Regions from separate parts of the Homo sapiens genome. Here region 2 is linked to region 1. A link means that fine-mapping ties the variant in region 1 to the expression of a gene that starts in the linked region. Tissue or cell type: whole blood. Region 1 holds a variant in brackets; the other region holds the start of a gene. All regions are shown on one strand. Distances are between the middles of the regions.

Region 1 (2,759 bases):
TTCTCTCTCTCTCTCTCTCTCTCTCCCTCTCTCATCTGTCTTTCTTTCTTAGAGATAGGGTCTTGCTATGTTGCCCAGGCTGCTTTCAAACTCCTGGGCTCAAATGATCTTCCTGCATGAGTCTCCTGAGTCGTTAAGACTATGGGCATCAGCCACCATGCCCAGCTCCTAATTTTCCATATAACTTATTTAATTGTAGGTTTATAGCATCTAATTTGTAATAATTACTATGTTTACCAAAATTCCTGAAAATTTAACAATCAGCTCTCATAGGCAGGTACAAGCCAGTGCCAGCACACAACCAATCTTGCTTCCTCCTTTTGCCTAATGGTTCAATATGTCAGGGCTCATCTCCCACCTCACCTCCTCCAGGAAGCCCTTCTTAAAGCCTCCAGCCTTTAGAGAGTTCCCTCTCCTGAAATCTTGTAACTTGCAGAGTTTGCACCAATCACTTGGTACTTGGCATTGACACTTTTCTTTGTCTATGTGTGGAATCTGGTGGAGGAGATCTATAAAGAGAGAAAACCAGTCTTTTTCATCTTTGTATCCCTCCAGAGCCTGGACCAATGTGTCATGACCTTGGCAAAAACTCAACAAATGCCTGTGGTGGCTTAATCTGTAAGAACCAGACAGAAAGGTCAGCCCAAATCCTAAATCCAAGTTCTTGAAAATATCTTTGCAGTCAGAGAGACTTGGGTTGAACCCTGCCTCTGCACTTCATCAGCTGTGTGACCTTGGATAACCACTTCACCTTACTGTGCCTCAGTTTCCTCCTCTGTAAAATGGGAATAATGACAATACTAACCTCCTCCGGGCTATAGAGACTAAAATGAGATGAAGCATGTGAAACATAGAACCTGGCATACAGTAAGCACTTGAGAAATGGGAGATTTTCTTTTCATTATCAACCAACAGAGAAGGTGGCAAAGGACGTGAAGCAATTTGCAAAAGATAAAATGTAGGTCATAAACAAACATGATAAATCTCACTAGTAATCAGAAAAAATATCAAATCCTCAGTATGGCAGCAATTGCGACCTATTAAACTAGAAAACTTTTGAAAAAATGACATGCAAGGCTGGCAGAGCTGTGATGGCACCAACAAAAATGTA[C/T]ATCCTGGACACTAGATAAGGTGGGGCTCTCCTTTTGGAATGCAATTTGTTGCAGGAGCCATAAAAATTACGATACTGAGAGTTGAGTCCAATCTCTGTCTCTGGCTGCAAGACTCCATTGCAGTGGTCCCTATACCTATGGCTATGGCCCCTTTGAATAAAGTCTGCCTTACAAAACAAAATCATGATACCAAGAAATTCCATTTTGAAACTCTACTCTGAGATGATGGGTTTATGGATGATTTCTTCCCTTTTTCCAGAAAGTTTCCTAATGTGGTCATATCACTTTTACAATTTAAAGATAATTTAAGGTTGGGTGTGGTGGCTAACATCTGTAATCCCAGCACTTTGGGAGGCTGAGGCAGGCAGATCACTTGAGGCCATGAGTTTGAAACCAGCCTGGCCAGTATGACGAAACCCCATCTCTACTAAAAATACAAAAAAAAATTAGCCAGGCATGGTGGCACATACCTATAGTCCTAGCTACTCTGGAGGCTGAGGCAGGAGAATCACTTGAACCCAGGAGGCAGAGGTTGCAGTGAGCCAAGATCTCGTCACTGCACTCCAGTTTGGGGCACAGAGTGAGCAAGACTCTGTCTCAAAAATAAATAGGCTGGGCCTGGTGGCTCATGCCTGTAATCCCAGCACTTTGGGAGGCCGAGGCAGGCAGATCACCTGAGGTCAGGAGATCGACACCAGCCTGTCCAACATGGTGAAACCCCGTCTCTACTAAAAGTACAAAAATTAGCCGGGCATGGTGGCAGGCACCTGTAATCTCAGCTACTCAGGAGGGTGAGGCAGAAGAATTGCTGAAACCCAGGAGGCAGAGGTTGCAGTGAGCCAAGATTGTGCCATTGCACTCCAGCCTGGGCTGACAACAGCGAGACTCTTGTCTCAAAATAAATAAATAAATAAATAAATAAATTTAAAAGTGATCTGGCATCACTAAGATTCAACAGCCAAATGCATAATTTAAATATGCATCTATATGTAAATAAGCATGCTTAGGAGCTCAAGGCGGGAGAATCCCTTGGTCCTCTTTCTAACACAATAGCCATATATCTAATGTCTCTAGCCATGCTCTGTGAGAGGCAGGCCTCTTACAGCTGGGACATGGAAACTCTGAGAAGGAAGTGAATTGCACAGGTTGCAGAAAAGGGCTCAAACTCTGACCATCAGGTCACAGGACATGATCTTAGGCATGCTCCTCAGAGGTTCACCCTCATCCCAACCCCCAGACTTTTCACCTTGCTGATAAACATGATGAAGGGTGACTCTCCAAAATCTTTTGAGATCAGCTGCCCATACGAGAACCTCTCTATCTTCGCCATGGCTACCAGCTGCCAGAGCTTCTCATCAGACCATGATGCAAACAGCTCCATCTTCCTGTGGGAAGAGCCTGTTAGAATTCATCAACTCCATCACACAAGGTGCCCAGACCTTAGCAATCTGCAGAGGGCACATACTCTTCTCCTGTGGAGGATGCCTGGGTGGAAGATTTCGCTGCTACCTGCCCAATTACCTGGCCTTGCCTGTAGCCATTCTCCTACCTGCTATCACCTTGGCTCCCTCCTCCTTTTCCCAAGGCCCTCCCCTCCAGCCAAGCTCCCCTCTTTACTGCTGCTCAGATGCCCCTGGGTGATCCAGC
Region 2 (2,500 bases), 250 kb before region 1:
TAGCCATTTTCCCTTGTGACATCTGTGTGCTCCTCCTTGATAATGACGTTTCTTTCATGCTAATTCCACCAGTCTGTAATTCTATTCACTATATCTCCAGCAGCTGGCACAGGGCCTAGCACAGAGGAGATGCTAGGAAAACGTTTATTAAATATGCATAGAACTCTGCAGTCTACCAGCCCCTGTCACTGACAGCTCTGTGAGTTCCTCACAGTCCTGGAACACCTAAAGTCACATCCATCCACTTCTCTCCACCACCTCCCTAATCCAAGCTACCATCGTCCCTCACTCAGAGTGCTTGCTCCTCAACCCATTCTCCATTCAACAGCAGTAACCTTTTCAAAATGCCAATCTAATCACAACACCACCCATGTCAGCTTCTGAGTGGTTTCCCATATGGTTCTTGAAAAACCAGAATTCTTCCTATTACCTACAAAGCCTGCACGGTCTGACTCCTGGCAACCCCTTTAGCTTGTGTCACACAATGGTCCCCCACAAGCTCTCTGTTCCAGCCACAACGGCCTCTTTCAGAACCTGAAATTGGAGGCTGTCTCCATATAGAAAACTCTTCCCTCCCCACTTTGTCAAATCCTTTTTTCTGATCTCAGCTCAATATTCACCTCCTCAGTAAAGGTTCCTTGCCCTGGGGCTAGGTCAGGTCTCCTGTGATATAATCTGGGGTGCCTTGTACCTTTCCGTCTCAATGATCACAACTGCAGTTTTGGATGTTTGATTGAAGGCTGTCATCGCCACGAGACTTGAGTCCTGCTGTATCCCTAGCACAGATTCAACGCTTAGTAAACATTTATTTAATACAAGTATGATATCCATTTTGTAAACGAGAAACAAAGCCTCAGTTCGGGGAAAGACCTTACTGGAAGTCACGCAGAGAGTAGGGCAGAGCCAGGTCGAGTGCAATCAGGGTCTCCGGCCCCCAGGCTCTAAAGTTAAGAAAACCGCGACGTAACTCTGGCGACGGCTTCTCAGGAAGGGCCTCCAGAGACACCAGCGTCCCACAAACAGAGAACCAGCCGCCCCGGCGAGGTGGGCCTAGTTCAAGGCACTCCGTGACTCTGAGCCGAGAAGAGGGGCGGCCCAGCCACACATACACAAGGAATCAGGAAAGGAAAAAGAGGCCAGGAGGCCACACTCACCGCCTCGCCCCACGTTCCGGTACAGCGGAAACGCACCGGAAGTTCTCCAGCTTTGGCGTCTGACTGGAGCGACGGGGGAAGCGGTCCGGCAGAGCCCTGGGTCGCGGGAAGAATGGCCCGTGCCTGCAGGTTCCGCCGGATGCAAGGTTGCCTTTTGTTATTCTTAGTTTCTCGTTTTAGCTTCTGAATTGTGAACAACTTTCATTAACCTATGCATTTTATATCCCCGTCCAGAAACACAGCCACCAGCCATCTTACTTTGGGCTCAAGCAGTCATGGTCACTAAAGCACAGCCAAGGCTTGTACCAGTGGCTACTATTCAGAAGTAGCCAGTCAGGCGCTCGGTCACTGTCTTTGTCAGCCAGTCTCTATCCCGGTCACAGTGTCTCAGCTTCCAGTCACACTCAGCCCTCGGGGAGAGCCTCAGAAACCCAGCCACCAGCCCAGAGAGAACCAGCGTCAGCCTCCGCTGCTGCAGCAGCAGCGGTCGCCACCTCAGTCCCTCTGGCCATTATCACCCCGTGTCCTTCCTGCAGGCCAAGTCCTAACATCTCAGTCAGGCTATCAACGCACTAGGGAAGGAATCTGCCTGTCTTGTTCCTCACTGTTTCCCTGGAACCGAGCACAAAGCCAGGCACAAAAGCTCAGCTGAGTACATATATTATGCATTTAATTAATAATGATGATAATTTGGTATTAATAAATAACTATTTGTGGGTCTAACCCTGCACTATTAATCAGGGTTCCACCAAAGATACAGAGCCAGTAGGAGATCTATATTAAGTGATTTATTGCCAAGAATTGGCTTATGTGATTTTAGGGCAGGCCACTTGGGTATTTCTTTTTTTGAGACGCAATCTCACTCTGTCACCCAGGCTGGAGTGCAATGGCGCTATCTCGGCTCACTGCAACCTCCACCTCCTGGGTTCAAGCCATTCTCCTGCCTCAGCCTCCCAAGTAGCTGGGATTACAGGCGCCCACCACCGTGCCTGGCTAATTTTTGTATTTTTAGTAGAGACGGGGTTTCATCTTGTTGGCCAGGCTGGTTTCGAACTCCTGACCTCAGGTGATCTGCCCACCTTGGCCTCTCAAAGTGCTGGGATTACAGGCATGAGCCACCGTGCCCGGCCCACTTGGGTATTTATAATCCTTGCACTAACCCTTGTAAGGTATGTGTATTCCCAATTTGCAGAAGAGAAAACTGAGGTTCAAAGAGATGTTACACAGCCAGAGAATGGCAGAGCTAGAATGCAAACCAAGGGCTGTCTGTTCTTATCTCTTGTGCTGCTGCTCCTTAGCTTGTCTGTCACATTTCCTCAGTGACAGCTGGACACGCCAATCTGTCT

Evidence for each region. PIP is the estimated chance that this variant, and not a neighbour inherited with it, causes the effect.
Region 2: it holds the start of AAR2, and the variant in region 1 is fine-mapped to the expression of AAR2 in whole blood (TOPMed, PIP above 0.99).

The regions. Positions count from the first base shown.
Region 1 is chr20:35,987,133-35,989,891 of GRCh38, reverse strand. It overlaps CNBD2 (cyclic nucleotide binding domain containing 2), which reads right to left. Exons shown (of 12, transcript NM_001365709.1): 7 at 2,359-2,497. Among named protein-coding and RNA genes, the nearest start is that of CNBD2, 20 kb to the right of the region's middle. The variant C/T (reference allele first, on the strand shown) is at 1,112.
Region 2 is chr20:36,235,158-36,237,657 of GRCh38, reverse strand. It overlaps AAR2 (AAR2 splicing factor), which reads right to left and starts at 1,180. Exons shown (of 4, transcript NM_001271874.2): 1 at 1,155-1,180. It overlaps LOC105372602 (a long non-coding RNA gene), which reads left to right and starts at 1,192. Exons shown (of 3, transcript XR_936695.2): 1 at 1,192-1,300.